Linked DNA regions of Homo sapiens: all the other regions are linked to region 4. Evidence: fine-mapped QTL for protein levels in blood plasma. A gene starts in region 4. Each other region holds a variant in brackets. All regions are shown on one strand. Distances are between the middles of the regions.

Region 1 (8,102 bases), 60 kb before region 4:
AACAGACACTCCAATAAAGTACACGAAATAAAGAATAAAGTTAAACAGTCAGTCCTAGTGCTGTGTAGGTGGCAGTAAGTCTGGGAGAGCGACCTCAGCTGAACTAACCATGCTGTGCATCATTGTCAAGCGGGACCAGCAGGATCCTCAGGTCACCTGGCAGCAGGGGCAGGGAAGGGTCCCTAGAAGTGATCTTGAGTTGCACTTAGTGCTCTTGGCAGAGGGAAGGGCTCGGGCTAGCGCTGGAGGCATGAAGATGGGGTGTGTTCAGGGCTCTTCCGCAGTCCAGGCATGGGAAGGGGACGCTGAGGGCCAAAGGCTGAGGTGACACTGGGAAAGGAACTATAGGAAGGTAAGGACTGGCTTTCGGCCATGTGACTGAATTGCCTGTGTGTGGTGTGTGTGTATGTGTGCGAATGTCAGTGAACTGTGTGTGTGAACGTGAGTGAATTGTGTGACTGTGTTTATGTGTGGGTGTATATGTGTGTGATGTGAGTGAACTGTGTGTATGTGGGTGTATATGTGTGTGATGTGAGTGAACTGTGTGTATGTAGGTGTATATGTGTGTGAATTTGAATGGTGTGTAAATGTGACTGAGCAGTGTGAATTTGTGTATGTGGGTGTATGTGTGTGAATGAGTGAACTGTGTGATTTTGTTGGTGTGAATTGTGTGCCTGTGTGTGTGAGGTGTATGTGTGTGTGTGGGAGTGAACTGTGTGATGACTTTGTATTAATGTCAGTGAATGGTGTGGTTGTGTATGTGGGTGTATATGTGTGTGTATGTATGTGAATTGTGTGTGGGGTTGGTGTGTATGTGTGTCAATGTGAGTGAGTTGTGTGACTTTGTTGAATATGAGTGAGTTGTGTGATTGTGTGGGTGTATATGTGTGTATAGGAGTTAACTGTGTGACTGTGTGTAAATGTTATGATTGTGTGTGTGGGTGTATACGTGTGAATGTGATACATCGTGTGACTGTGGGTGGACGTGGGTGGATGTGTGTGTGAGTGTGGCTGTGTGTCGAACAGTGTGTGAGTGTAAGTGTGCAGGTGGTAGCTGTGGAATTAAGGCACATTAGGGGAATCCTTCCTTGGCTCTGGTCCTTGGTTTCCCTCCTATGAAACAAGTTGGGTGAATTAGGCAGTCTCTGGCATTCCAGGATTTGGTCTCAGGTCTAAACAGAATTTTGTAAAGTGAAAGCAGCATCCCTTGGGCATCCCGGGAGGTGTCCCTGCCCTCCATGGCTCACCGTCTGCCACATGGCCCAGCAGCAGCTACTCTGCAGGGCCATGTGCTGCCATGACAGGTACTGATCCCCATGGGCGCGGGCCTGCAGGTCCTGGAGGTACCAGTGGTCAGGTGCTTTGTACATGCAGCTCATATAGAGCAAGCTAGCCACACTGGGGGGACATGGCAGGGGCAGAAGACATGCCCTGAACACTCTTCAACCGTTTTCTGGGGCATTTTCACTATCCCCATGATGCAGAGGAGGGATGTGAGGCTCAGAGAGGTTAGGTAACTACCCAGGGTCACACAGCCCTACACGGGGCCAGACTGTCATCTCAACTAAGGGCAGCAAGGAAGAAACAAAATGTCATGAACTTCAGCAGGGGCTCAGGGAAGGCTTCCAGGAGGAAGGGGCACCCAGTGTGAGTCTGAAGAACGAGAGCATGTTGGATATCTCCCCAACATATCCAAAGTGTGGACAGGGCCAGGAGCAAGGCCAGCAGGGACAGAGCCTTCCAGGTGACATGGCAGCATTGCTTCCCACCCTGTCCCAACTCCCGTTCACCTATGGTGAAGGGTTGTGCAGTCTGACCCTCAGAGCTCATCATGCCTTTATGGGTGTTGGACCATCCAGTGATCCCAGGCTCTGAATGTGAATCCAGCTCCACCAAGGAGGCACTATGTGGCCTCGGTAAAGGACGCCACCATGCGGCCACCAACCTGGAGGCTGGTTTTGGCTTTCATTTTTCCCACCCACCTCCAACCCTTCAGCAAACCCTGCAGTTAGATTTCAATAAAAGTCAGAACTGACCACAATCCCCCGCAACCCTGCACCACCACCACCTTGGTCTGGGGCTCCAGCGCTGCATGCCAGATGACTGCAGTGGCTTTCTCACCCCTGCCAGGGGGATCCTTTACGACGTAAGTCAGATCACAGTTCTCCTCTGCTCAAAACTCTCCAACAACTCAATCCACCTGCGGTAAGAGCCAAAGCCTTCCCAGTGTCCCATGCTCCCCTCTGTCGTGACCTCCTGCTCTTCCTGCTCACTGCACCCACCCTGGCCCGTTGCTCTCCAGTCTGAACCCCATGCATTGTCCCACCTGGAGCCTTCGCCCTCACTCTTCCCTCCAGTGAGAACACCCTTCTCCTCATGCCTTGCACATTCCTACAGCTCCCTGCTCAGATGCCACCTCCTCCAGGGAGTCTTCCCTCAGCATCCTACTCATAATGACACACACCCCCACTCTTACCCTGTTTATTTTTTCCATGGCATCCATCAACATCCGATATGTTCCATGTTTACATGGGTTACTGTCAGCTCCCCCTTCTATTAATGGAATGTGAGATCCATGAGGAGAAGGACGCAGACACGTTCACTGCTCAAGCCCCAGGGCTTAAATGGGGTCTGGCCCTGGTGGATGTTTAGCAAATAGCCACTGAAGCTCGCTGAGTGGTCCCTCGACTCTCCAGGGAAACAGCACTTGCCCCACAGGATTTGTGGGCAAAATGGTAGCACTAAGATGCCTGGTACAGCCGCTCCTCGAAACTTAGCACTCTCCTTTTTTCGGAGGGGAAGGCTGGCGGTGAGGAGGCCCGGAAGCAGACTGGGCCCTGTGGCCTTGTGCAAGTCCCTCCCCTCCTCCAGCCTCAGTTTCCTCACTTGTACAATGCAGGAGGGGACTTCTATAACCCTTGTCAACACTGGGCACCTCTGCCTGCCTCCACCCATTCTTCACCCTGGGGCTGGTGCAGGGCCCACAGTCCATGATCCAAGCCATCAACAGTGAACAGACAGCCGACTGGCCCCACAAGGCCCGGCAGCAGCCCACGGACCGGTTACCTCTCAGCCAAGGTGAAGTCCCCATCCTTCAAGGCCCGGCACCTTCCTCAGGGGGTTCACCTGGGCAAAGGCATCGCTGTGCTGCTGGCCTGCAGGAAAGATCAGAGAGGTGAGTGGGGATAACCCAGAGTTCTCTGAGGTCTCTGCCCACCCCCACCCCAAAATCCCAGCAGCAGCTTTCTGAGGCCCCTATCTGGGAGGCATCAGGGAAGAGGAAGCCTCTCTGCTAGTCACTGGGTCACAGACCTTGACCCCATCAGAGGGCCATCTTTCCTGTGTCCAGCTCCTTGAAGCATGGCTCAAGGACAATTCCCTGGAGCTGTAATTCACACCCCACCCCCAGCCAGTTCCATCCATAGGTCAGACCCCTCCAGCCTCCTCCCTGGGCTCTAGGCTTGCCCCCTCTGATTCAGCTTCCTATCCCAGCTGGGGACTTAGGCCCTACTGGCCAGGCTGGGTGACCTGTCAATACCCCAGAGTCCCAGCCAAACATGTTCCCAACCCTCAGACCAACCTCATTCTTGCTGGGAATCCCTGCCCCATTCAGCTACTTAGCCTCCGGTGGCTCAGCTCTTCTTGCTTTCTTATGCCAAACTCTCAAGGCTCCCTCCCCAGTGGGGGTTCCCAGGTCTGACTCACTTTAGCACTCTAGGCCAGTGCTAGAGGCCGCATTAGGTGCCTGGTGTTTGGATCAGAGGACCTCAGTCAAGCCAGGCTCCAGTCTGATCATAGGCCTACATGTGGGCCTCTTTGCCCTTCTACTGAATGGACATACACACCCCTGCCCATTCTCCCTCCACAGACTGCTTCTGTGTCCAGCCCCTGTTCTGTAGCAGGTGACTCAAGCTGGTTGTACCAAGGGCAGCAGTTGGGAAGA[G/C]TCAGCTGAGCAGGGTCCTCCCTCTGGCCTGCCCAGGGGGCTCTGGCTCTGCTCTCTGCCCTACTGCTTAGTTATAGCCCTGCCTCCTCCACTGAATTGTGCTCCAGCTGCATCTCTGTATGCCAGCCAGACCAGCAAACGCTGGAGCTCAGGGTGAGGGTGCTGGCCTCCCCCACTGCCCTGCCACAGGGCCCTCCAGCCTCTAGCCTCTAGGAGTAGCCCCTTCAGCTGGGTGAGAAGCCCCATGGGATAGAGCAAGTCAGATGCAGGAAAAGGAAAAGGCAGAAGAATGCCAAGAAATACATAAAAGTGGAAGAGACCCAGGGCCAGACATGGTGGTGCATGTCTGTGATCTCAACACTTTAGAAGGAGGAGGCAGGAGGATCACTTGAGCTCAGGAGTTCAAGGTCAGCCTGGTCTACATGGCAAAATCATGCGTCTACACACACCAAAGAAAAAAGTAGCTGGGCACGGGGACGTGCCTGTAGTCCCAACTATTCTACTTAGGAGGAGTAAGTTGGGAGGATCACTTGATCCTGAGAGGTCAAGGCTGCAGTGAGCCGGGATCATGCCACTGCCCTCTAGCCTGGGCTGCAGATTGAGACACTGTAATAAATAAATAAATAAATAAATAAATAAATAAATAAATAAATAAACAAACAAATAATACAAAAGTGGAAGAGACACAGGCAGGGGTAGACAGGGACTATTTTACTTAGGAAACAACGAGGCAGTTTCATTGTTTTTTCCAAGCACATGGGGTGAAGATATTCTTGCCCCACTCCATTTCCCTACCCTCGTTCTGTGCCTGCTGTGCCCTCTCTAAACCTGTATTTTGAAGAATGTTTTGTATTCACAAGCAAAGATCAAGCCTCTATTAAAATAGACAACCAGTGGGGCATGGCGGCTCATGCTTGTAATCCCAACACTTTGGGAGGCCAAGGCAAGAGGATCACTTGAGCCCAGGAGTTCTAGGCCAGCCTCGGAAACACAGCAAGACCTCCTCTCAATAATAATAATAATAATAAATTGGCCAGGCATGTCGGTGGGCACCTGTAGTCCCAGCTACTTGAGGGGCTGAGGCGGGAGGATCGCTTAAGCCTGGAAGGTCGAGGCTGCAGTGAGCCATGATTGTGCCACTGCACTCCAGCCTGAGTGACAGAGTTAGATGCTGTCTCCAAAAAGTAAAAATAATAACATAGATAATTATGTAATAGTTTCCACACCGGAGAGTCTGATTCTTCGTGTTAGTCTGCATTCTTGGCCCAACTGCAAAGCAGCGGGGACAGGCAGGGATCCGCGGCCAATATCCCCTGGGCCTGCCTGCCCAGCCCAGCTTTGGTCAGCTCCACTGTGCGAAGCTCGAAGGGGATGCCATTCTTGGCGAAGATGTAGACTGAACGGCAGGGCTGGGACAGCAGACCCATGGCGGGGGCAATGGGGTGGGGCGTGGGAGGGCAGACCTAAACCCAGGGGACGGGCCCTGGGGACAAACCCGGGGACAGGCCCGGGAACAGGAACTGCGGGCAGGAATGGCTGGTTGGGGGCGGCGGACAGGAACGGCTGGGGGTAGGTGAGGGTTGGGCAGGAACTGCTGGGTCACCGAGCCTGCAGCGGTGCACCTCACCAGGAGCCCCGAGTCCGGCCACGCCCTCTTCACTCATCCCTTGGCTCCTAGAACTTCGGGTCAATCAGTGGCGTGTCTGCTCTCTCACCACCCCTTTCTGGGAATCTAGGCTGCAGGTATATTTCCCACTAAAAGGGAAGAGGAGAGGCTGGGCGCGGTGGCTCACGCCTGTAATCCCAGCACTTTGGGATACCGAGGGGGGCGGATCACGAGGTCAGGAGATCGAGACCATACTGGCTAAAACGGTGAAACCCGTCTCTACTAAAAATACAAAAAATTAGCCGGGCGGGGTGGCGGGCGCCTGTAGTCCCAGCTACTCGGGAGGCTGGGGCAGGAGAATGGCGTGAACCCGGGAGGCGGAGCTTGCAGTGAGCCGAGCTCACGCCACTGCACTCCAGCCTGGGCGGCAGAGCCATACTCCGTCTCAAAAAATAAAAAAAAAGGAAGAGGAGAAAGGAGGTGCAGCAGCCTCCTTGCCCAGTGCCTGGGCCCAGTGCCCAGGACGGAGGCCAGAGAGGAAGGGTGGCTGACTGCCTGCGGGGCTGCCAGCCCCACACCTCATGAAGGAATGAGCTGTCCCTCCCCAGTTGCTGGGGTCATATTTGTTACACTCTAGCTAACGCCTCCCCGAGATGGCTGAGGCCCTGTGAGGCCTATCCAGAGGTTTCCAACAGTGCCTGGCATTGCACAGTAAATTAATCACCATGACACGAGTTTTGCAAAAGAGAAAAGATTTATTCACAGGGCACCAAGCAAGGATGTGGGATAGTAGCTCTCAAATCCACCTTCCCGAAAATAAGGCTTAGGGATAAGCCTTGCTTCCAAGCAGTAGAGCACAGGCCCCAGCCACGCTCCAGGGTAGGGGACCATACAAGGATGTGAATAGCAGTGTCGGCCTTGTGGGCCTACAACGCAGAAGGGCCATGCACTTGGTTTAAAGCTTTGCTGTTGCCATCTTAACATTCTTAACAAGTTAAAAATAAGGGTCCCCACATTTTCATTTATAGCCAGTCCTGTCCAAGGAGTTCAAAGATCTCATGAGGGTGGACAGGGCACTGTCTGCTCTGGGCAGTGATGGGACCACTAACAGTTGTTCTCCAGTCTCCCAGCGCCTACCCCAGGGCCACACCTTCCCCTGGGCTCTACTATTCTTTTTTTTTTTTTTTTTTCGAGACAGGGTCTTGCTGTTGCCCAGGCTGGAATGAGTGCAGTGGTACAAACTTAGCTTACTGCAGCCTCAACCTGGGCTCAAACAATCCTTCTGCCTCACCCTCCCATGTAGCTCAGACCACATGCGCATGCCACCAGTCTGGGCTAATTTTTTGACTTTGTAGAGACGGGGTCGCACTTTGTTTCCCAGGGTGCTCCCGAATTCCTTGGCTCAAGTGATCCTCCCACCTCAGCCCCCCACAGTGCTGGGATTATAGGTGTGATCCACCACCCCTGGCCTCTCTCACATTCTTGACATTTAAAGTTACCATCATTGACAAGGAACATGGGTACACTCCAATTTACTCAAGAAAAAGCTCTTTTCTCCATTGAAGAGATATGTGGCCTAACTGCTTCCTACTCTAGTTGAGTCTTCTTGTTGTTTCCTTTTTCTTCTTCTCTCTTGTTTTTTAGAGACGAGGTCCTGCTGTGTTGCCCAGGCTGGTCTCAAAGTTCTACCCTCAAGAGACCCTCCTGCCTTGTCCTCCCAAAGTGTTGGGATTACAGGTGTGAGCCACTCTGTCCAGCCTCAAACTGTGGTCATTAGATCAGCAGCAGTAGCAGCCTTGCCTGGGAGCTTGTTAGAAATATACTAACAGGCTCCCACCCCCAAACCCAGACCTACTGAATCAGACAGAGTTTATTTTCATAAGATCCTCAGGTGATCCAAATGCACCTTAAACTTTGAGGAGCTTTGATCCAGAACCTGAGGTGGAGGCCCCTGGGGGCCACTCTGTTCCTCACAGACTGCAAGATATGTTTTTTTCTTGCCTCTTCTCTCTGTCCCAATGTCTCCTTCTCTCTGTGTCTGACCCTGAGGACCCTATGACATCCTCCCAGGGGAGTTTCCACTGCCAAAGGCCTGATTCTCTAGAATCTGATGGGCTCCTCTAGACACCAATCTCTACCTGGGCTCTTGTTGAAGAAGCCAATCAGCTCATTGGTTGGAGATCACGTGATATACAACATGGCTGCCTTCCAAGCCTTATGTGTGGACAAGGAGATAGGGACAAGTAGGCATATCATGTTCTGATACCTGGGCCATCGTCTCTCCTTAGGCCCCCAGGATACACGTTTATGGGGAGTTTTCCTCCCTTCCCCCAATATGGTCACTCATAACTTTACACCCACCAAACAGGAGTGGAAGCTACAGGGTTTCATGTAAACAATAGGCTAGGCTGTGGGGCTGAGTAAAAGGCACTGGACTGTGGTAGGTCTTACTCCAAGATGGCCAAATGGAAGGGCTTTTAGCTTTCTTTGTTTTTGTTTTATATTTTGAGCTATAATATTCAATTTCTACACTTCAGAATAAAAAGAGCCACA
Region 2 (8,102 bases), 90 kb before region 4:
GGTTGGTCTCAAAACCCTGTCTCCTGATAAGATGTTATCAATGACAATGGTGCCCGAAACTTCATTAGCAATTTTAATTTTGCCTCGGTCCTGTGATCCTGTGATCTCGCCCTGCCTCCACTTGCCTTGTGATATTCTATTACCCTGTTAAGTACTTGATGTCTGTCACTCACACCTATTTGCACACTCCCTCCCCTTTTGAAAATCCCTAATAAAAACTTGCTGGTTTTTGTGGCTTGTGGGGCATCACAGATCCTACCAACGTGTGACGTCTCCCCCGGATGCACAGCTTTACAATTTCTCTCTTTTGTACTCTGTCCCTTTATTTCTCAAGCCGGCCGACACTTAGGAAAAATAGGAAACAATCTACGTGATTATTGGGGCAGGTCCCCCAATAGAGTGGCACATGGTGGGCACAGGTCAGGCATGGGAAATAGGCCCCAAAGCCACAAGACATGTGGGCAGGTAGCGCAGTGTGTGTCTGGAACATCCTGTTTATTGGTCAGCAGTGACATCTACTGTCACATTTGAGAACTGCATCCACAGCCACATGGCCTCCTGTGAAGACCTCAGGGCAAACTGGGGAAACCTGCCCTTCTTGGAAGGTGATGCTAGGGGGGATGAGCAACACCTTTCTTGGAGGTTTGAATTCTTCAGGGCCCCTCCAGCATCTTGGTCTTCCTAATTCCTCCCTTGATCCCCCAGCCCTAGGGGTGGTAGCTTCTTGCAGTGTTTACCTCCGTGTTAATCTGGATTCTCTCTGTCTTCGGAGTTCTCTAATGCCTGGTTACCAATTCTTTATATCAAGTTCTCTCCGTTAAAATCATTGTGGTGGGGTCCATCCCATGGATATACATGGAGGTCTGTGTGACAATGTATAATCTTACTATTTGCAGTTATTACAAAACTGTCCTAGAAGACATGAATGCTTGTTAAAAGAAATCTTTTAAGTTTCCTAGACTTCAAAGACCGTTGCTATGCCCTGTGAAACATCGCCTATATCCTTTAACAGTTTGCAATTCGAATTGGTTACTTACTTAACATTTTGTTGCCCTGGTGATACAATTATGTTGACTCGTTATTGTGAGGTTACTTTGTTATTAACCATGATGAGGATTACTAGCACATACTTTTACTCCATATGTATAACACAACAATGTAGTAAAACCAATAACTCTTGGTTCTCTATTCAAAGTGTTTGGAATCTTTATTCTGTTTAAAACACTGATGACATTTGCCAATTTTTGAGTGTTCTTCATGTTACTGATTTGTAGGAGCTCTTTATATATTGCAGATTTAGTCTCTTACTGGTTATGTATGCTGCACCTGAGGAGTAGCAGCACTGCCAAGGACACTGAGTGTCTTGTCTGTGCAGAGCTTCACATGAAGCTGGAGAGAAGGGACTGGGGCAAGAGGGAAAGATAAAAAGGGGCAAGTAAGTAACAGAATGAATCCTTGTTGCTAATCTCCTGGCCCCCATCCCAGACCCTTCAGGGGATCCTGGCGATTCGAAGCAGCATAGCCTGATAGGCCTCTGGTGAGGGTGTTGGGAGGGTTTTCTTGGCCGCCTGTTCCAGGATGCTCAAGATGATGCTGTGGGCCTCCTGGCATAGCTCAGCACCCAGGAAAGCCTCCACTCATCCACGCCATGCTGCCAGTCGTGGCCGTCCCTCAAACAGTTCATAGCCGAGAGCCACCGGCTGTAGGGACAAGGATGAAAAAGTTGTGGGCATACAACTTTCCCAGTTGTCACTGCCGACCCGAATGCTGGAACCATGGGCAGAAGTATCAGAGACATGGTCCATTCCCCAGCCCCTAAGTGAATGGACCACAGGGGCCCAGGCAGTATGTTCAGCCTTAGAGCCCAAGAGCAGCCAGGGTGAGACCCCACACCCAGGCAGGAGGCAGAAGTTCAGGGTTCTGGCCCCAGATCATCCAGAGACTTGCTCTATGATTCTGGGCAAAGTTCTGGCTTTCTCCAGGCCTCAGTGTTTCTGTCTGCCTCATGGGTGTGACACGAAGAGGGACACTGCCCACAGGCTGAGCTCACACCTGCATCAGCTCCTCCAGGGCCATGAGATCAGCCAGTGTCACCTGCTGGCCAGCGAGGAAGGGCCTGTCCCCCAGGAACTTGTCCTCCAGCCATTGCAGGGCCTGGTCCATGGCAGTCCTGTTGCGTTCCACCTTCTCCTCGGGCACCTGGACCCCAATGAGTGGCCCCAACATCTGATGGGGGCAGAGAGTGGGTCAGTCTATGGCCCCGGCCTACTGCCAACTACTCCCTGATGGCCAATCACTCTCCAGATGGCTCTCCTCACCTGGACCCACAGGGGTATACCAAAGGTGCCACGGATGCAGTCGGCATGCCAGCCCAGGTACTCATGAACACGGGCACGAGCCTGCAGGTCAGATGGATACCAGTGGTCCGGCGTCTGGTACTTACAGCTCAGGTAAATCAGGATGGCCGAGCTGGGAACAAATGGGCAGTGGCTATAAGGACACTGGCACCAGGCATTTACCCCTAACTGCTCCCATCTGCCAGTGGGGCCCGGGGGCTTCTCTGCATTTGAAGGACTGCCCTCCAGCCTCGCCCTCCATCTCCAGCTCCCCAACACCACCCCCTCCTCCTACGAGTCTCCTCCTGTCTTTGTTGCCTTGGGCACCGACTCTTGGCTGGACCTTCTGCTTTGCATTTTGAGAACCTCATCTCTGTGATATGCCAGCAGCCGCCCTGTGAGGTAGACACTCCTGTTAGCCTTTTAGCACAAGAGAAAACTCAAGGTCAGAATGGTCAAGTGACTTGTCCGAGGCGGTGCAGCTCAGAATAGGCTCCCTGGACCCCTGGAACCCTGCATGGGGCTGGCACACAGTGGATGCTCCGTGGAGTCCCTTGCATGTCCACGCGCTTGGGTCAGGGATCACGAGGGGAGGAATGTCTTTGGCCCCCGTCTGACAGGCCCCCAGCCATCACCTCTGCAGCCACCTGACCTCTTGTCCTTTTCCTGCCCAGCAGCTGGACCTCACCATGAGCTGTGCCCTTGGGCCATGGCATTGGCCTCTAGGCCCGGCCTGGGTAGATTGGGTAGTCTGCGACAAGTCACTAGAGGCTCTTTTCAGCTAGCATTTGTTGAACAAATGCGCAACAGTGGAAAAATGTTCCCTTGTCTTCTCTTCTAATACCCTTCAGTCTGGGAGTGGAGAGGCCCTGCGGCTCAGAAAAGGCTGAAGATGAGAGGTGGGGGGACATGTTCTGTCAGCCCCTGCTCATCCCGGACACACCCCAAGCTGTACCTTCTCCCCAGATACCTCTCCTTTCTTTCTTTCCTTTTTTTTTGAGACGGAGTCTCCCTCTGTCGCCCAGGCTGGAGTGGGCTCCCTCTGTCACCCAGGCTGGAGTGCAGTGGCGCGACCTCTGCTCATTGCAAGCTCCGCCTCCTGAGTTCACGCCATTCTCCTGCCTCAGCCTCCCCAGTAGCTGGGACTACAGGCGGCCGCCACCACGCCCTGCTAATGTTTTGTATTTTTAGTAGAGACAGGGTTTCACCGTGTTAGCCAGGATGGTCTCGATCTCCTGACCTCGTGATCCGCCCACCTCGGCCTCCCAAAGTGCTGGGATTACAGGCGTAAACCACCGCGCCCGGCCTTTTTGAGACGGAGTCTAGCTCTGTCGCCCAGGCTGGAGTGCAGTGGCGCGATCTCAGCACACTGCAAGCTCCGCCTCCTGGGTTCACACCATTCTCCTGCCTCAGCCTCCAGAGTAGCTGGGACTACAGACGCCCGCCACCACGCCCGGTTAATTTTTTTTTCCATTTTTAGTAGAGACGGTGTTTCACGGTGTTAGCCAGGATGGTCTCGGTCTCCTGACCTCGTGATCCGCCCGCCTTGGCCTCCCGAAGTGCCGGGATGACAGGCGTGAGCCACCGCGCCCGGCCAGATCCCTCGCCTTTCCCCTCCCTCGCTGCCCCATGGGGTATGGGAGGGCCATTGGGGCCCGGGGCCAGTGGGGAGAGCCAAGGTCACATGGGCTCCGGATGCGGTGAGGGGTGAGGGAAGGAGGGCATCTTTCGGTCAAGATGAAATCACCATCCTTGAGCGTCGGCAGTTTCCCCAGGCTGTTGATCTGCAAGAACTCCTTGCTCTTGTGCTGCCCTGAAGAAGAAGAAGTCAGAAAAGGTCTTCAGAGTAAAAACGCTGCACCTCTACACCCTCCCTCCTCCTCCCCAAGCGGAGCCCCACAGCCCTGAGAAACAGCAAGGTCTGGGACTAGAGGCCTGGATCAGCCTCACTCCCTGGCTGGGCCTCCCTGCCCTGCCACATTCCGGGGCAGCTGGGGGGTTTTGGTGGGTGGGGCCAGGTGCAGCAGGTGGATAAAGAGAAGTTTTCTAGCCGGACTCTGGTGGGCCAGGGGAGGGGAGGCAAACTGGGGTGGCTCATCTCTTCCCATCTCTTAATTCTCACAACAGTATGTCCTTCTTCCCGAGGTCTTCTGGGCTTTGTGAATTTATATGCGTGCATTCCACGCAAGAACTCTGTCAACTCCATTCAGTATTTTCTTTCCATCCCTACAGAGCAGAAGGTAAC[A/G]TTATCCTCCTTTTCAGAAGGCAAGCTAAGGTTCAGAGAGGCTGTGATCCCTTCAAGGCCACTCAGTCCACAGCATTCTCTGGTGGCAGACGCTGCAGGAGGAGGTGAGGGGGCTGTGCGGGCGGCGAGACGCTCAGGGCAGAGCAGGGCGGGGGCCTGGGGGTGCACTGGGTTTGTGGACACGCGGGGAAACGGGCTGGGCCCACCTTTGACCAAATCCACGGTGCGCAGCTCTAAGGGGATGCCATTCTTCTTGGCGAAGATGTAGACGGCGCGGCTGGGCTGGGACACCAGGTCAAGAAACAGCTCTAGGCCCATGGCGGGGGCGGCAAGGACAGCGGGGATGGCAGTGAAGGCGCTGAGCGCGGTGTGGGCAGCAGCTGTGGCAGGATCCCGGCGCGCCGGGAAATAGGGGATCAGGCCCCACCCCCTGGGGACAGCACCCAATTGGAGCGCACCACCCCCGGACCCGCCTCGCCCCTTCGGTTCCTGTCCAGTCCTGCCGGCCAAGACTCCACCACCAGATCCGTGCGTCCCTACAGGGAGGGCGGTCGCTATGAACGCACAGCTGGGAGGGTGGAGTTGGAGCTGGGGACCCTCGACTGGCAGGGAGGACGCGGATGCAGGGGGCCGACTGCAAGGGGAAGGGGAACCGGCTGGACAGGGAGAAGCAGGTCTGCTTTTCGGGATCCCGGTGCCAGGGACCCTGCCCAGTTCCAGGCGTCGCCCTGACCCAGAAACGACTGGGCGCCGCCGTCCTGGAAAGGCCCCAGCGCACGGACATCTGAGGGTTCGTTCAGAGCTCTGTTTCTCGGCGCTGCATGGTGGCGGAAGGGAGGGAGCGAATGGGATCCCCTAAAAGGGATCTTAGAGTTTCACCCAGTGGGATGTGACACTTGCAGGTGTCCCAAACTGGTGGGAACCTTGACTGGAAGGCTGGGGTTAAGGATGAACTTTCTGCCGTCCAGACTGTCCCCTGCAGAGCAGCTGCTGCCAGACAGCGGGAGCTGCCAGACAGCGGGAGCTCCCACTTCGTGCACAGGATGGGGGCAGGGAGCCCGCAGCCGCGGGAGGCAGGAATGACTGTCCGGGAACCTCCTTTCTTCTCCCTGAATCCCAGCCCTGGCATCTCACCAGGGGGCACAGTGATGGTCCAGGGCTGGGCCCGGGACTCTAGCTGAATCTTTCAGAGTATCCCATCCCTCTGGCCAGTGGCCCAAGCGAGTGAACCAGAATGCTTCCTTGGGAGTTTTGAAACTGGAACTGGAGAGAGGAGCTCCCTATGGGGAGGTAAACGGGAGCTGGGGCCACCTGTAGTGACATTTCCTGAGTTCGAGGAGTAGACGAGACTGAGAGAGAAAAGCTGACTCAGAGAAAGGGAGTGATAACAGGGCATGCTGGCCCACACCTGCAATCCCAGTTACTCTCACGGGATCTGTTTCTCTGATGTCTGGGTATGAAAGGACTTTCTAAGCCTCAGAACAGTGGGAGAACTCAACAAAGAAAAAACCAATACATATACAAGGTTACTTTGTGGAGGAAAAAATGGATTAACCTTAAGCAAAAAACTGGGAAGGATCTCGGTAAAAGATACGTCAGAAGGAAGTAATGTCCTTTAAGATGTTCTTAGAAACCCATCAGACAGGTAGGGTGTGGTGGTTCACGCCTGTAATCCCTGTACTTTGGGAGGCAGAGATGGGCGGATCAGTTGAGGTCAGGAGTTTGAGACCAGCCTGGGCAACACGGTGAAGCCCCGTCTCTACTAAAAATACAAAAATTAGCTGGGTGCGGTGGCACACTCGGGAGGCTGAGACAGGAGAATCACTTGAACCTTGGAGGCAGAGGTTTCAGTGAGCTGAGATCATACCACTGCACTCCAGCCGGGCCACTGAGCGAGACTGTCTCAAAACAAACAAACGAACAAACAAAAAGAAGAGAAACTCATCAGACGAAGACACAGGAAAAAAATGAGCGAAGGAAATCAGCAGAGGTTTCATTGAAGGACAAAGAGAAATGGTCAATACATGGATGAAAACATGTTTAACTTCAGTAATAATCAAGGAAGCACACACCAACACAACATGCACATACTGTTTTTATTTATCAAAGGCACACATATTTTTGAAATGAGTACTCCTAATTAATATGTACAGAGCACTTACCCAGTGCCCAGCACAGGGGTGGCACCCTGTGTGTGAGACAGCATGAAACAGGTAGACACGCGCCCTGCTGAAAGTAAGGGACCGCCTCTCTGGAGGATCCATCGGGCAATAAGGAGGTTTCCACACCTTAACTGTGTCTGCCTTGACCTCTGGGGCCTGGGAGCAGAGCCCCCTCCAGCTGGTGGGGAAGGAAGCGTGGTGTGTTTGAGGACAGAATGGAGAGAAGTTGAGTAGAGCAAGTGTAGACTCTTCCTATCCAAAGTGTGGTCAATGGACTGGGAGTATCAGCATCACCAGGGAGCTTGTTGGAAATGCAGAGGCTCAGGCCCCACTCTGACCTTACTGATTGGGAGCATAAACTGTAACCAGATTCCAGGGAGGATTCATACACACATTCCCGTTTGATAAGTGGGGGGTAGTAGGAGGTGAGGTGAAAAGTGGGGAGGGGATGGCTACCGCACTGGAGAAGGCTGGCTTTGTGTTGAGGCCTTTCTCATGAGGGCAGTGGGGAGCCATGGAAGGCTTTATGCAAGAGAGGGTACGGGCAGATTGAGATTACAGAAGGATCCCACTGGTTGCCTTGTGTGAGGACCCAGGGAGAAGGGGGAGGCTGTCCCTGTTTGAGTAGGAGATGAGAGCTACTGGTGGCTATGAGTGGAAAGAAGTGAGCAGAGGTGAGCAGAAATCCCAAGGACTGGTGATGATAGGATGATGGTGGGAACCAGGATGGGCTTTGGGCAGACCCTGACCCCTCTCTCTGCCTGTCGGCCCACCAGATAATAATCCCTGTGTTCCTGGGCGAGTCAGTGCCACCCGAGATGTTGGCGGCCACTTTGGCTGAGCTGGACGGATGCCTGCAGCTGCTCGAGGACAAGTTCCTGCGGGACCAGGCCTTCCTTACTGGGCCCCGTATCTCTGTGGCTGGCTTGGTGGCAATCACGGAGCTGAGGCATGAGAGTGCCATGGGGTGCGGTGGCCCGCTGGGCAGTGGTGTATCCGGGAAGGGAGCTGACATCCCAGCTCATGTTGTCTTTTCTGGCTGTGGGACCCTGTGTGAGTCACTTCTCCTTCTGAGCCTCAGTGTCCTCATCTATAAAATGGGGCTTTACAAACCCCTCACCGCAGCTATATTAAGAGGCTTCCAAGTGTCCCCAGGGAGGGGGACATCCTAGCCCATCACACACATGGTGGAGGAGGGAAAATCCAATCAGAGAACCCCTAAAGCAGGTCATGCTGCCTTACACTTGGCTATGCCCAGCCCCTCCGCTGACTCTGTCTTCCCCTAGCCCATCAGTGCTGGCTGCTGAGTCTTTGAAAGCAGACCCACGGTGGCAGCATGGTGCCCAACACGTGGAGGCT
Region 3 (8,102 bases), 110 kb before region 4:
CAGGAAGTTCAGAACTGCAGTGAACTCTGATTGCGCCACTGCACTCCAGCCTGGGCTAGGATAGAGCGTAGCATCACTACGATACCATTAAGATACCTCATAAAATTAACAATAATTCCTGGATTTCATCTAATATGTGGCTCCTGTTCAAAACTCTATGATTATCTCCTAAACATTTTCTTGGCAGTTTGTTTGGATCAGGATCCAAAGAAGTTTTTTTTTTTTTTTTTTTTGAGACGGAGTCTCGCTCTGTTGCCCAGGCTGGAGTGCAGTGGCGCTATCTTGGCTCACTGCAAGCTCCGCCTCCCGGGTTCACGCCATTCTCCTGCCTCAGCCTCCTGAGTAGCTGGGACTACAGGTGCCCGCCACCATGCCTGGCTAATTTTTTTGTATTTTTAGTAGAGACGGGGTTTCACTGTGTTAACCAGGATGGTCTCGATCTCCTGACCCCATGATCCCCCCGCCTCGGCCTCCCAGAGTGCTGGGATTACAGGCGTGAGCCACCGTGCCCAGCCAAGAAGTTCTGAGTCTTGCAGCCAGTTGCTGTCTCTCCTGCCACTTTTTAACCGATAGCTCTCTCCATGCCCTGACCTTTTTACCTTGGCATGGTTGCTGCTGGTGATGATAAAGGAGCCCTTGTTCTGCGGAGGTTCCCACACCAGCCATCAATCAGCAAGGCCTAGGACATCCCCTCCGAAGCATGTCTCCCCTCCATCCCCTTCCCTCTGTCCCCATGGCCTCCAACATTCCCAGACACCACAACCTTCCCGATAGTTGCTGGCCCCCTCATTGTCCATTCTGCCCCCTCGGGCTCACCCTCCATCCAGCACCAGAGAGATGGATCCTTTCATGCCCTGGCTTATATAATGCCTAATCTTAAGCATTAAGTCCATAACCTCCCTGCACCTCCAGGGGCTACCCTACGTGGACTCCACAGTGTCTCTGGCTGCCTCATCACTCCCCAATCACCCCCACCCTTCTTCCAGTTGCAACCCCCTACTCTCTTTTCTTCAGATTTACCTTGCTCCCTTTACCCTCGTATTTCAGCATGTGTTTTTCTTTGTTGGTTTTTTGAGACAGAGTCTTGCTCTGTGGCCCAGGCTGGAGTACAGTGGCACAATCTTGGCTCACTACAACCTCTGCCTCCCAGGTTCAAGTGACTCCCGTGCCTCAGCTTCCCAAGTAGCTGGGATTACAGGTGTGTGCCACCACAACTAGCTAATTTTTGTATTTTCATTTTAGTAGAGACAGGGTTTCACCATGTTGGCCAGGCTGGTCTCCAACTCCTGGCCTCAAGGGATCTGCCCCCATTGGCCTCCCAAAGTGCCGGGATTACAGGTGTGAGCCATCGTGCCCCCCCGTTTTTGTTTTTGAAAAAGGATCTTGATCTTTCACCCAAGCTGGAGTGCAGTGGTGTGATCTTGGCTCACAGTAGCCCCAAATTCCTGGGATCAAGTGATCCTCCCACCTCAGCATCCCAATTCAACACGTGTTGTTCCCCCTGCTGGCCTACTCTTTGTTATACCACCAGCCCCCAACTCCTACTCACCCCGCAGGGCTCCTTCCCAGCCCTTACTGACTGTCAGACAGACAGCTCTGGTGAAGGTCTTTCTCGGGGCCGTTTGGGCTCCTCTTTGCTCTGGAAGCCCCAGCAGTTGGGCCCAGGCCACACCGGGGTGGTTGATGTAGTGGCACTCAGGAAGGCAAGGGCAGTGCCCCTGACCGGCCCCTTCTGCAGCGCGGCCATCCTTTACTACCTGTGCCGCAAGTACAGCGCACCATCGCACTGGTGCCCGCCAGACCCGCACGCACGTGCCCGTGTGGATGAGTTCGTGGCTTGGCAACACACGGCCTTTCAGCTGCCCATGAAGAAGATAGTCTGGCTCAAGGTGAGCAGGGCCACTTCTGGGGCTTGGGGACACGGGCACAGGGAAGTCAGGAAGGCTGGAGGCCAGTTCTGGCCCTGCTGACTGCCGGCGACCTCAAGCAAGTCTCCCTCCCTCTCTGGGCCTCATTTCCTCAGCTCCTTCTCCTGCCCGCCTTACAGAGCCGTCAGGAGTGTGGACTGAAACAATGGGCATGAAAGAGTCTTATTAGGGCGAGGGGAAGGGCATACGGGAGGGGCTGATGTGACTCACCCAGGACAGCATTCGAGGCATTTCATTCTGAACTAGAGAATCTCAGCGTCAAAAGGCCCACAGAAGGCCGGGTACGGTGGCTCACAACTGTAATCCCAGTACTTTGGGAGGCCGAGGCGGGCAGATCACTTGAGGTCAGGAGTTCAAGACCTACCTTGCCAACATTGTGAAACACCATCTCTACTAAAAATACAAAATTATTAGCTGGGTGTGGTGATGGGCACCTGTAATCCCAGCTACTCAGGACGCTGAGGCAGGACAATTGCTTGAACCCAGGAGTTGGAGTTGGCAGTGAGCCAAGATTGTGCCACTGCACTCCAGCCTGGGCGACAGAGTGAGACTCCATCTCAAAAAACAAAAACAAAAAAGAGTATGGCCTATAGAAAATTAGAAGATGACAAATAACCAGTACATGTGTCTCTACTTTGAATTCTATGCCTGTGACAGACATCACTAATCAATCACAGGACTTATGCCTGCTGAGCTCCCCAAATCCTTGTGAACACATGGTTCCCAGCAACTTCCACCAATCAGAACTGCTAAAAGAGGTGAAACTGCTTTATATCCTGGGAAGTGTTCAATATCTATCCAGCAGACAAGAGTACAGAGACCTGGCAGGGCAGGTGGCCCTGGAGTGCAGCCTCCTCTTCCCTCCTCTTCCCAACCCTGGCCAGTTGCTGATCCCAAAGATAACAGGGGAGGAAGTTTCAGCTGAGAAGATGGAGCATGCAGTGGAAGAGGTGAAGAACAGCCTGCAGCTCTTTGAGGAGTATTTTCTGCAGGATAAGATGTTCATCACCGGGAACCAAATCTCACTGGCTGACCTGGTGGCCGTGGTGGAGATGATGCAGGTGTGGAGTGGATTGGAGGAGGGTTAGACCCTGGGCAGAGGTAGGACTCCTCTGTGACCAATGGGGCCATCACTTGAGGATAGGCTGGTGAGGCGGGAAAGGCAGGCAGAGCTGCCATGGGGGCTGCGGGAACCAGGCCTGGGGGCCTGGACTCAATCGGGGCAACAGGAAGCACAGAATGTTATGAATCAGGAAGGATCACAGTTCTCCACACTTGACAAAGATTCTTCGGTGTGGGAGGACCCGGAGGGTGAGCCTGGGATAGAGAAGAACACTGCATTTCCTGCTCAATCCACCGGCATCCCAGATACCTCCTCCTCTTGCTGGACTCTCCAGGAAATGTTCACTGGCTTCCTGGGTGTCCTTCTGGCCCTGCCTGTTTCCCAGAGCTCCAGACAGACAGCTCTGGAGGACAGCTCTCGTGGCTGGGTCTGAGGGGCATCCACTGTGCATTTGGAGGCACACCTGAGTGTGGGGCATTTATGTGGCCTCTACATGCAGGGGAGGGTGACCAGTTCTGCTTGTCAAGACACTGGCCAGGGTCTCAACTGGCCATCCTGCACACCAGCTAGGGCACTGCACACTGACCAAAGAGACTAATTTGCATATCAGCCAGAGATATGCCCGAGAGGAGGGACCTGGGGTCCTGGTGGATTGACCAGAAAATGCAGTATTCTTTTCCTTATCCCAGAGATCTCTGGCTGATATGAAAATTAGTCTCCTTGGTCTGTTTGCAGGGCAGACCAGCACCAGGAAAAATCATTCTGGCCTGCCCCAAGGGTTCAGCCATATGCTTCGTCCCCACCCCTTACATTTCACCCACACACACCCATTCTTGGGCTTCCCAAAGATCTTGGGTGCAAACCAAACTCTTAGTAAGCCAGCGAAACTGCAGGGTAGACTGCCCGCCAGGTCTCCCATCCTAGCCCCTGAGCTTGATCACAGTGGGAGGCTAAACATGGAGGAAAAAACCTGAGTTCTCTCCCTCATCCACATATACACACCTGGGATAAGGGGT[C/T]TCCCTGGAAGAAGGCAGGATTCATGCGAGGTCGCAGGCTGGAGAAGTGGGAAGTGCCTGGGCCAGGAGCCCTCTCAGCATGGTTCAGAAGGCTTGGAGCAAGAAGACCAGTGACTGAGGACTCTGAGGGATTCTGGATCCTCCATCCCCACCTACATCTATTACATAGTCTGTGACCCCTTGCTCAGGCCTTGGGGGTCAGCAGCCTAATTCTTTGCATAGGTAGATGTTAGGGACGTGGGCCTGAGGCTGTGGGAGAGGACCCAGGTGGGGCTGGTCCCCAGGCTGACCACGTCTTTGTCTTCGTCTATCTACAGCCCATGGCAGCCAACTATAATGTCTTCCTCAACAGCTCCAAGCTAGCTGAGTGGCGTATGCAGGTGGAGCTGAATATTGGCTCTGGCCTCTTTAGGGAGGCCCATGATCGACTAATGCAGTTGGCCGACTGGGACTTTTCAACATTGGATTCAATGGTCAAGGAGAATATTTCTGAGTTGCTGAAGAAGAGCAGGTGACCCTAGGCGCAGCCTGTCCCGCAGGGCCTGGCTGGCTTAGCAATCTGAGCCACCTTCCTTAAAGGAAATGTTAAAAAAAAAAAAACAAAAAAACAAAAAAACAACTGTTCTTTGCCTAATAAAGAACTGGAACAACCATCACAGCTGCTGAGCAGCAGACAGTTGGCATATGCATAGGGTCTGATGTGGGAGTGGGTGGTGGTTACAGATCCTTCCAGTTTCCAAAAAGAATTTTAAAAGTAAAGGGTTAAATATGGTTACATTGTGAGTAATAATAGTTGGTGACTTCAATACCCCACTTTCAGTAATAGAAAAACTACAGAAGACCATCAAGGAAATAGGGAATTTGAAAAGCACGATTAACCAATCGCATACACTAGACATGAACAGAACGTTCCACCCGACAGGAGCAGAATAAGCATTCTTCTAAAGAGCACATGGAATATTCTCCAGTATAGAGCATATATTTGGTCCTAAGTCTCAAATTTAAGATGATTGAAATCACACAAAGTATGTTCTCTGGACACAGTGGAATAAAGTTAAAAATCAAGAACAGAAGGAAAACTAGAAAACTCACAAGCACATAGAAATTAAACAGCACACTCTTAAACAACAAATGGGTTAAAGAAGAAATCACAAGGGACATCAAAAAGTATCCTGAACAAATAAAAATGAAAACACAACATGCCCAGATTTATAGGATGCAGCAGAAGCAGTTCTAAGAGCAAAATTTATAGCTGTAAACACATAAGTTAAAGAAGAATGATCTTGAATCAATAACCTAACTTTACACCTTAAGGAACTAGAAAAATAAGAGCAAACTCAACCCAACACCACTAGAAAACAGGAAATAATAAAGATTAGAATGGAGATAAATGAAATAGAAAATAGAAAAGCAATAAAATCAATAAAACCAAAAATTGGATCTTTGCAAAGATCAACAAAATTGGCAAACCTTTACTTAGAATAGCCAAGTGAAAAAAATAAGGGTCAAATTATTCACCAAGAAAGAAAGTGGAGGCTGGGTGCAATGGCTCACACCTGCAATCCCAGCACTTTGGAAAGCAGAGGCAGAAGGATCACTTGAGGCCAGGAGATTGAGAACAGCCTGGGTAACACAATGAGACTTTTTTCTAAAAAATATATTTTTTAAAAAAATTAGCTTGGTGTGGTGGTGCAAGCCTGTAGTCTTAGCTAACTGGGTGGCCGAGGTGGGAGGATCACTCGAGTCCAAGAGTTCAAGGTTACACCGAGCTATGATTGCACCACTGCACTCCAGCCTGGGCACATAGAAGAACCTTATCTCAAAAAACAAACAAAAACAAAAATGAAAAAATGAAATGGAAACCAGAAAGAAAGAAAATGGAGACATCACATTGGTCATAGAGAAATTCAAAAGTTTAGAAATACTATGAATAACTATATGTGGACAATTTAGACAACCTAGATGAAATGGGAAAATTTTAGAAACACACAATCTACCAAAACTGACTTAAGAAGAAAGATAAAATTTTAATAGGCCTGTAACAAATAAAGAGATTAAAATATTAATTATTTTTAAAAATTCCACAAAGAAAAGCCCAGGACCAGATGGCTTCCCTGGTGAATTCAACCAAAAGCTTGAAGAACTAACACAAAGCCTTCACAAACTCTTCCAAAAAAATAAAACAGGAAGAAATATTTTTCAACTCATACTATGAGGCCAGAATTACTCTGATACCAAAGACAGAAAAAGACATTACAAGAAAATAAAGTTACAAAGCAATATCCTTATAAATATAGATGTAAAAATCCTCAGCAAAATATTAGCAAATCAAATCCAGCAGCATATTAAAAGGATCATACACCTTGACCAGGTAGGATTTATCCCAGGAGTACAAATGCAGTTCAACATACAAAAATCAATCAGTGTAGCATACCATGTTAATAGAAAGTCACATGATCATCCTAATGCACAGAAGGCATTTGACAAAACCTAACATCCTTTTACGATAAAATTACTCAGCAGATGAAGACGAGAAAGGAACTTCCTCAACTTGACAAAAAGCATCTATGAAAAACCTATAACTAACACCATACTTCATCCATTGTGAAAGATCAAGCGTTTCCCCCCTAAGATCAGGAACAGGACAAGAATGTTCATTCACACTACTTCTACTTATTAGGGCAATTAGGCAAGAAAAAGGAACAAGGTGGAATCTAGATCAGAAAGAAAGAAGTAAAACCATCTCTATTCACAGATGACATTACAGAAATTCTTAACTCACTTAAAAACCATTAGAGCTAATAAACAAGTTCAAGGCTGGGCACGGTGGCTCACACCTGTAATCCCAGCACTTTGGGAGGCCAAGGCGGGCAGATCATGAGGTCAGAAGTTTGAGACCAGCCTGTCCAATATGGTGAAACCCCGTCTCTACTAAAAATACAAAAATTAGCCGGGCGTGGTGGCGCATGCCTGTAGTCCCAGCTACTCAGGAGGCAAAGGCAGGAGAATCACCAGAGCCCAGGAGGTGGAGGTTGCAGTGTGCCAAGATCAAGCCACTGCACTCCAGCCTGGGTGACTGACTGAGACTCCATCTCAATAAAATAAAATAAGTTCAGCAAGGTTGCAGGGTACAAGATTAATACACAAAAATCAATAGTATACATTTGCAATAAAGGATGAAAAACAAAATTAAAACCACACTTCCATTTATAATACCATCAAAAAGAATAAAATAGAATAAATTTAACCAAAGAAAAGCAACATTTCAACACAGCAAACTACAATGTGCTGTTGAAAGAAATTAAAGAAGCGCCACCAAGCAATCTGACCTGAGAAAACATGCAGGTTCAACAGAATGAGTCCTGCTCTTCAGCAAGCACCCATCTTGTGTTCAAGCTGGGTCTATGAGGCAAGTTTGGCAACATAGACATGGACATGCCACCAAATCTGTAATGTAGAAAAGGCCAAGGGAAGGTGGATCAATCATTGGAAACATTCAACAATCCATGGAAGAAATGTTAAAAATAGAATCTCAGGGTCTGATGAAGTTGGAATATCACTCTTCTATGTATTTCGGTTGGAATCTGTTGAACGATTGGATAAAGTAAAAGTATAGGGAATTATTAGGTAGCATTAAATGTGTAATAAATGTAAAGAGAGGGTGCAAGTGCATACAAGGAAGTGTACGCTACTGGGTTTCTGTTGAATTGTTCATGGAAGACCATCAGCAGTTCAATTCCAAAAGCTTGTCTTAAAATTAGCTGGGTGTGGTGGCGTATGCCTGTAATCCCAGCTACTCAGGAGGCTGAGGCAGGAGAATCGCTTGAATCCGGGAAGCAGAGATTGCAGTGAGCCAAGATCGCACCACTGTACTCCAGCCTGGTGACAGAGCGATACTCTGACTCAAAAAAAAAACAAACAAACAAAAAAAAAACTTGTCTTGAGGGACTACGCCAGCCTTAACAGCTACAAACATCATGGAGGAAGCTGTCTGCCCATTAGAAGCCCAGAGCCCAGAGGGACAGACTAGAGCAAATCCTCTCCCTCATTGGAGCTAGATGGGAACACAAATCTATCTGATAACTAACATGCAAT
Region 4 (8,082 bases):
GGCTCGCTGGAGCCGCCGAAGGCCATGAGCTGGTCCGGGACCACGTGCACCGCGATGTACTGCGAGGAAAGGGCGCGGTCAGCCCGCCCCAGCGACCTCGTCGGGCCCCGAACGTCCACTTCGGGCCCGAGCCACCGTCCTCCCCCCGCCCCGCCCCCCAGCTCCGTTCAGGAGTCGCCTCCCCAGCTCCCAGCGCGGAACCCCTCGTCCGGTGGGCACCCCCCTCTTCCTGTCCCCTCCCGGCAAACCTGGGGGGGCTTGCCGGTGGCCTGCGCCAGCTGCTGGGTGAGCTCGGAGAGGAACCCGTCCGGCACGGAGGCGCGGGGCACGTTGGTGTTTACGATGAACATCGGCATGATGGCAGAAGGACCAGGAGACCCGCGCAGAGGCACAGACGCACGCGCCGCGGCCGCCGCTGAGCTACGTGCCTGACTTCTCGGACACCACTGTGGTCCCGCCTTTTGTGACGCCACCGCCGGCGCCAGGCCCCGCCCCCGCGAGGCTGCGGCTCCGCCCCGAGTGGGGAAGTCACCGCCTGCCTCGGCTCGACCCCCGCAGGGCAGGACCCTGGGCGACTCCGCCCGTTCCTCCAGCAACCGCCGCTAAGCCCGGCGCACCGCTCCAACCTGTTCTCCACTTGGCGGCTAGAAATCGGCCTGTTCCGGCCTCGCCTCGGGTCTTTCTTAGTCCTTTCACTAAGTCACCGATGTTAGTCGCCAGGAGGCGCTGTGCCGGGGGTGGGGATGCGGCGGTGAACCCGGAAGATGGCCCCTTACCCTTCCAGAGATGAAGCCCAGTTCATTCCACTGCACGCACTGAGCCCCTGTACCTCCTGTCTTTGGGCCACATGTCCTCAAGGGCTCCAGTCCCGCATGCGTGAGCTTGTGTGTTTGAGATGGGGCGGGGTAGTCATCGCGGCAGGTGAGAGGGGAGCTGCCCCTGCGAATCACCATCCAGGGAACTTCCCTGAACCCCTGCTCTTTAAAGAGGATAGGATGCTGGGAGGCACCGAAGGGAAGGAGGCGAGGTCCAGAGCAGGTTCAGTGGTTCAAACGTGCTCAGCTCCCCTTCTCTGGGCCTCTGGGCAACTTCAGCTCCTCAGGGAAGCCACACCCTAGTCAGGTCCACCGTGTATGGCCTCTCATAGAGCCCTTGGTGAATTTCTTAAATGTCTTTTCCACTAATGGTAAACTCGGGGACCATCTAGCAGGTGCCAGGCATACAAGAGACATTGACTAATACTGCTGAATGAATGAATGAATGAATGGGTGAAAGAAGATAAGCCATGACATAGCAGGAAGAGGACAAGGCAGCAACTGGATCACAGGCCAGGTCCTCAGAGATTTCCAGGGAGGTCCTGTCCTTGGTCTCTGATAGGTGCAATCCATATACCAGTCTCAGTGAAGGCCATGTGATATAGGAAGGACACCCATGCCTGTGGGACCCTCGTGGCACCAGCCAGCCTCCAGCTGGGAGGCCCCATGGCCCATTTATACAAATAGCCTATGGGTATTGGTTCCTGCAGCTGGGCCCCAGACTCTTTCCCTCCTGGTGTCACACCTTCTCTTACCTGTGCCCAGGGCTCCCTAACTGATGGCACTCCATACCATGTCTCCAGCCAGGGGCACTCCCCTAAGTCCCAGGCGCTGACAGCAGCTGACTGAGTGTCCACTGCTCTGTAAAGTCCAAATGTATGACTTGTCCTCCTACACCTCATCACCTGCCAGTAAAATATGCTTCCTTTCACTATCCCTTTATTCCCACTTCTCTCCATTCCCTGAACTACCGCCTAGTCTACACTACCTGCATCCCCTTTGGCCTGGACCACTGTGACTTCCCTATGGTGGACTGCTGCTCCTCAAGGGAGGAGTCTGTTTCCAGCCCCAGGCAGCAGAGTTAGCCCCGACTCCCTGTGCCCTATGAAAGCTGAGCAGAATTACATAAGTCACTCCAGGCAGAAGACTGAAGAGCCAGGGCCTGGTTGACCTGTGCCCTGTGAACCTGAATGACAAGGTGCAGCCTCGCCAGCAAGCACATGAGCTGCCCCTGGAGGTGAGCCCCTGCCAATCTCAGGTTGTTACCATAACAAAGGGTTGCCTTACCTGGCCAGTGACGGAGCAGGAGCATTGCCATCTTGAACAAACACCACCATTCTAAGTTCCCCCTTAATTAAAAGCCGCCTAAATCCAGCCCGAAAATATCAGCCTAATAGCTAATGTCAGCATAACCAGAAACATTCCAACCCTAAGATAAACCCTTCTCTGACCAGAAACATGCCAACCCGGAGACAGCCTCCCTTCTGACCAGAGACATTCCATCCCCGCAATAAACTTTCCCTCACACAGAAACATTCAGAACCTATGATAAGAACCCCCTCCAAAACCCTTAAATATCCTTAGTTTGTAAGAGAGTGTGGCTCTGACCTAACTTGGCCAGAAGCCCCTCTCAAGTTTGTTTTCCAAAATAAACCTGTCCTTGTTGACTGTCGAGCCACCCTTGGTGTTTCTTTCCTCTTTAATTCTTATAGCCAGGACAGCCTCTGAGCCACTTGTCATCTCCTTGTACCCTCCCCAGCTGTTTCCAGTGGCAGTCAGCCTCATCCTTCTAGAAGGGTACCCAAAGAAGTGATATGATTTGCCTCTTACTAGCATGGACATTTGGCTCACTTTCCCCATCTGTAATTTGGGGATGACAATAGTGTTCACCTGACATAGAGGTGTTATGAGCACCAAGTGGCCTAAATGCCAATGACAGTCTCCTCTGATACTAGGGGTAGTACTGTCACAAGGCCCTGGGGTAACCCGGTCCCTGTGAGCCTCCGCCAACCCTCCCTGGTTCTCTGAGTTATGGCGCACTGTCCTTCAGTACCATGGCTCCTGGCTCCAGGGTTGGGGGTTGGTTCTGAAATCCAGTTTGCCCACATTTTCCCTCATCTGACTCCAACTCATCCTTCAGTTCTTGGCTCAGCCTTAGTTCCTTGGGAAAGCCCCCGGAGCACCTGGCTTGGTCCATTCCCACACGTGCCCAGTACCTGTCCTGTCCTTCGAGGCTATCTCCATATTTCTGAGTTAAGACTGCATGTCTAGGCGGTAAACTCCATCCCAGTGGGGACAGTCTCTTTTTGGGCATTGCTGTATGCATACCTCCTGACCCCTTACCTCCGTGGTAGGCAGATGACCCCCTGCCCACTAAAGAATAGCAGGGGGAGGACAAGCACTAATCCCTGGAACCTACAAGTATGCCATGTTACCTGGCAAAAAGCACTTCACAGATGCAATTAGGATTATGCATCTGTGCATAATAGGGAGATTAGCATGGAGCATCTGGGTACACCCAATCTAATCACATGAACTCTTAAAAGCAGATAATTTTCTCCAGCTAGAGTGCCAGATTCCAAGCAAGAGAAACACTCGATGTCCATTACCGGCTTTGAAGATGAAGGGGACCAGAGACCTCATGGTACAACCACAAGGAACTGAATTCTGCTCACAACCAGATTGAACTTGGAAGTGGATTTTTCCCTTGTCCCTTCAGATACCTTGACTTTGGCCATGCGAGTCCTTACACAGAAGACCTAGTCATGTCACGCCGGACTACTGACCCACAGAAACTGTGAGATAATAAATGCGTGTTGTTTGAAGCTGCTAAAAATTTGTGTTGATTTATTATAAGAGCAAAAAAAAAATAATACACCTTGGGACCCATAGGGACACAATAATTATCCGCTAACCATGGACAAATGCGCTAGGAGGCATTGGCAGGCATGGCTGCTGACTCCCTCTTCCTCCTCATGGCAGCATCCCAGATCTGTTCGTTAGAAGGTTCACTGCCCCAGAGTTCCTGCCACCCAGGTGTGGCCACCTCATCTCCCACCCCATCCCAGCACATCCAGCTGGAGGCACAACTCACCTCAGCTTCCTCACCCCTAGGCCTCTGAGGAAGCATTTTCATGGTCTGATTCCAAAGACAGCGGTGTGTGTGTGTGTGTGTGTGTCCATGTGTGTGCGCGTGCACGTGTGTCCACATGAGTGCTCACATGCACTATGAGCCTATGAAGCTAGAGTAGCTGAGAAGTCACCATCTAGCCCTGGAGTGTGCACCCAGACAGGAGCCTGGGCTCCCCGGGCAGAGTCATCTCTCTCCAGGTGTTTGATTCTCTCTAATCTTCAATGATTCCCTGCTACCTGCAGAATGAACCAGAGAATGGGGGCAGAACACGACCCCTGAAGAGCGCTGGCTCAAGCTGAGCTCCACTGCTAATCCACAGGGTCACTCTGGACCCCTCGGGTGGCCTAAAGGCCTCCTCAATAAAATGGAGATCAAGGAGATCAGGAAGCACACAGACTCTAGACTACACTTCCCATGAGCACTCTGAATGATCAGCACCAGCGCGCCACGGACCTCAGGTACCAGGCGAGGTCCCAGACGCAGCGTGTGCAGTGATCAAGGTCTGGGGTCCATGGTCACCAGGTCTACTCCTGGCCATTCCAGTTAGCTGTGTGACCCTGGACAAGCCACCGGCTTTTACTCAGTCTCTCATATGTACAACAGGGGTAATAAAAGTACTAATTTCATGGGGTCCTTTCCAGGATTAAAGGAGCTAACACTTGGAAGATACTCAGAATGGTCCTGATACATAGAAAGCCCTCCATAGATGTTATCCCTGAACATTGTTGTCACTGGGAGACTGTTTTGCAAGGTAAGGACCACCGCCATCCTCACAACCCTGGGCACAGCCTGAGGACAAGGACTGAGGCGGAAGCCTCTGGATGTAGTGGACCCTAGGTGGATATGTGTAAACTGAAGGGAAAAATGATTCAGCTGAGGCACAGAGTGATCTGGGTCCCAACAAGAGGGAACCAGAGACTCAGAGGGTCCAAGAAAGGAGAGGATGAGAACAAATACAAGAGAATGGACAACAGCCCTTTGGAGGCTGTGCAAGCCCAGATCCTTGTGAGCGCCGCCTGGATCCCGGCAGCCAGGCAGCCAACTTGAGCCTGCCAGATGGGCGGGGCCCTGTCCCCTGGCCCTGGGAAGCTGGGACATGTAGGTCCTGGTAATTAGCAAATGAGGGAGGGATTCGGGCTAGGAGAGGGGCTTGACCACATGCTCTGGGAGGTGGGGAGAGGCCACACTGGGTCTGGGGTCTGGGGAGGTGGGCTGGAGCTGGGGAGCATGGCTGTGACTCCTCTCCAGCTACATGGGCTAGACATCAATGCTCACACCTGGAACGCAGTCTCAGCAGAGGCAGGTCAGCTCCCACCCTGGACCACCCCCTAGAAACCCAGTCTGGCTCTCTCACCCCTCTCTGCACTGCCCTTCCTTGTCTTCAAGGTCCTGTCCTGAGACCCTGTCTCCTCTCCCTAACTGAGGGGCTCCCTGCGTAACAAGGGACTTGCAACCCCCACCCCGCCCTCCCAGAGTGGCCAGAGCCAATTCCGGCTGGGTGGGTGGTGAGTGAGAGGGCAGGGCTCAGGCTGGGGACCGGGGCACCATGTGTGTCCGAGGCAGGCCGGGACCTGGGTGTCACCTGATGCCTGCTCTGCTCGTGGCACGTACCCCAGGATCTCAGGGGTGCTTGTCAATGGATTCTTACTCATGACTCCACGTTGGAGGTCTGCAGCCAGGGCGGCCAGGGAAGCCATTTGGAGCACAAAGGTAAGCTGGGGAGCAGGTCAACAGAGGCAGGATCAGGGTGGATGGACACAGAGGGGCAGAGTGACCACACACAGGGCTCCTGGGAGGGCTGCCCCTGCCTCCTGAAGACTCCACAGTGACTGGACACGGTAGCTTCATTCCCATCCTGCAACGCTGCTGCCTCCCAGTGGCTCCAGCTTTTTTTTTTTTTTTTTTCTTTTTTTGGTAGAAACAAGGCCTCGCTCTGTGGCCCAGGCTGGAGTGCACTGGTGCAATCATAGCTCACTGTAATCTCCAACTCTTGGGCTCCAGAGATCCTCCCACCTCAGCCTCCCAAGTAGCTGGGACTACAGGCACATGCCACCAAGGCTCTAGCTTTTAAAAGGCCCCCAGCTGAGCCTATCCTTAGGAAGCCAGCTCAGAGTCACCTTCTCCCTGAGACCTCTACTGACACCCTGACCCAGAGATTTCTCTCTCCCCAGAGAACCCACAGCCCCACCACTTCTCTTTAACAGTCACTGTTTCCTGACAAAAGCCAAATTCTTTCTTATACAACAATAGTCCACTGATTTTCTTTATTTAGGCACCAAAGTAAAATAATGAAGAAAAAATGGCTTTTTTTAAAGCAAATGGTACTGGTACGACCAGATAGCCATTTCAAAAAAAAAGAAAGAAAAGAAAAAAGGGCCAGTCATGGTGACTCATTCCTGTAATCCCAGCACTTTGGCAAACGAACGGCTTGAGTCCATGAGTTCAGGAACAGTCTGAACAACATGGCAAAAGCCTGTCTCTACAAAAAAACAAAGAAAAACAATAAAACAAAACAAAACAAAAATTAGCCAGGCTAGCCGGGCGCGGTGGCGGGCGCCTGCAGTCCCAGCTACTCGGGAGGCTGAGGCAAGAGAATGGCGTGAACCCGGGAGGCAGAGGTTGCAGTGAGCCGAGATAGTGCCACTGCAGTCCTGCCTGGGCGAAAGAGCAAGACTCCATCTCAAAAAAAAAAAAAAAAAAATTAGCCAGGCATGGTGGCACGCATCTGTAGTCCCAGCTACTTAGGAGGCTGAGGTGGGAGGATTGCTTGAGTCTGGAAGGTAGAGGTTGCAGTGAGCTGAGATCACGTCACTTGCACTCCAGTCTAGGCAACACACAGTGAGACCCTGTTCCCCCCACCCACCCAAAAAAAAGGAACCTCAGCCCCTCACACCATACCCAAAAATTAACTTGAAATTCATCATCAGCAACATAAGTGTAAAAGCTAAAACTATCCAACATTTGGAAGAAAATCTTTGCAACATTGGGATAGGCAAAGATATCTTATGGCACAAAAAGCATGAATCACAAAAACCAAAAACTGATAAATCAAACTTTACCAAAATAAAAATTTCTGTTCGGCCGGGCCAGGTGGCTCACGCCTGTAATCCCAGCACTTTGGGAGGCCGAGGCGAGCAGGTCACGAGGTCAGGAGATCAAGACCATCCTGGCCAACATGGTGAAACCCCGTCTCTACTAAAAATACAAAAAAATGAGCAGAGCATGGCAGCACGTGCCTGTAGTCCCAGCTACTCAGGAGGTTGAGGCAGGAGAATTGCTTAAACCCAGGAGGCAGGGCTGCAGTGAGCCGAGATCGCGCCACTGCACTCCAGCCTGGGTGACAGAGCGAGATTCCATCTCCAAAAAAAAAAAAAAAAAAAAAATTCTGCTCTTAGGTAGCATTAAGAAAATAAAAAAGGCAAGCTACGGACTGCAGGAAAATATTTACAATACTATATATTTAACAAAGTACTAGCTTCCAGAATGTATAAAAAATGCCCACATTTAAAAAATAATGACAACCAACCTGATAAAAATAGCAGATAAGGGCTGGGTGCGGTGGCTCATGCCTGTAATCCCAGCACTTTGGGAAGCCAAGGTGGGTGGATCACTTGATGTCAGGAGTTTGAAACTTGCCTGGCCAACATGGCAAAATCCCATCTCTACCAAAAATACAAAAATTAGCAGGGCATGGTGGCTCACGCCTGTGGTCCCACCTACTTGGGGGGCTGAGGTGGGAGGATCGCTTGAGTCCAGGAGGCAGAGGTTGCAATGAGCTGAGTTCATTCCACTGCCCTCCAGCCTGGGCGACAGAGAACCCTGTCTCAACAACAACAACAAAAAAAAGTAGACAAAATATTTGAACAAATTATTCATAAAAGAAAACCCACAAATGGCCATACTGAGCACATGAAAAGATGTCAAACATTATTAGTCATTAGGGAAATACCACAATTAAATGACAAGATACCACTACACACTCACTAGAATGGCTAAATTGAAGAGACTGACAATACCAAGTGCTGATGAGGATCTGGAGTATCCAGAACTCATACATTATTAATGAGAATGTGAAACAATATAATCAACCACTTTGGAAAACAATTTTTATACAGTTAAATATACATTTATTAT

Alleles and levels. Positions count from the first base shown, and alleles are read on the strand shown. Strength reflects both the effect of a copy and how common the allele is.
As copies of G replace C in region 1, the plasma level of the protein whose gene starts at base 448 in region 4 goes down (strong association).
As copies of A replace G in region 2, the plasma level of the protein whose gene starts at base 448 in region 4 goes up (strong association).
In carriers of allele T in region 3, the plasma level of the protein whose gene starts at base 448 in region 4 tends to be higher than with C alone (strong association).

The links. PIP is the chance, under the fine-mapping model, that this variant and not a neighbour inherited with it causes the effect. The UK Biobank Pharma Proteomics Project read protein levels with antibody pairs (Olink). The fine-mapping took linkage between variants from a reference panel, not from the people measured, so its PIPs are less certain.
Region 1: its variant is fine-mapped to the plasma level of the MIF protein (UK Biobank, PIP above 0.99).
Region 2: its variant is fine-mapped to the plasma level of the MIF protein (UK Biobank, PIP above 0.99).
Region 3: its variant is fine-mapped to the plasma level of the MIF protein (UK Biobank, PIP above 0.99).

The regions. Positions count from the first base shown.
Region 1 is chr22:23,947,186-23,955,287 of GRCh38, reverse strand. No RefSeq gene overlaps it. Among named protein-coding and RNA genes, the nearest start is that of GSTT2B, 10 kb to the left of the region's middle. RefSeq lists enhancers at 1-12, 2,247-2,938, 2,939-3,630. The variant G/C (reference allele first, on the strand shown) is at 3,944.
Region 2 is chr22:23,976,995-23,985,096 of GRCh38, reverse strand. It overlaps a transcript of DDT not described here and the pseudogene GSTT2. Among named protein-coding and RNA genes, the nearest start is that of DDT, 6.6 kb to the right of the region's middle. The variant A/G (reference allele first, on the strand shown) is at 4,582.
Region 3 is chr22:23,994,962-24,003,063 of GRCh38, reverse strand. GSTT4 (glutathione S-transferase theta 4) reads left to right here. Exons shown (of 5, transcript NM_001358664.2): 3 at 1,739-1,889; 4 at 2,813-2,989; 5 at 4,325-4,663. The coding sequence ends at 4,522. Among named protein-coding and RNA genes, the nearest start is that of GSTT4, 6.4 kb to the left of the region's middle. The variant C/T (reference allele first, on the strand shown) is at 4,008.
Region 4 is chr22:23,886,749-23,894,830 of GRCh38, reverse strand. MIF (macrophage migration inhibitory factor) reads right to left here and starts at 448. Exons shown (of 3, transcript NM_002415.2): 1 at 249-448; 2 at 1-59. The coding sequence starts at 356. MIF-AS1 (MIF antisense RNA 1) reads left to right here. Exons shown (of 3, transcript NR_038911.1): 3 at 1-1,121. RefSeq lists enhancers at 1-773, 6,175-6,469.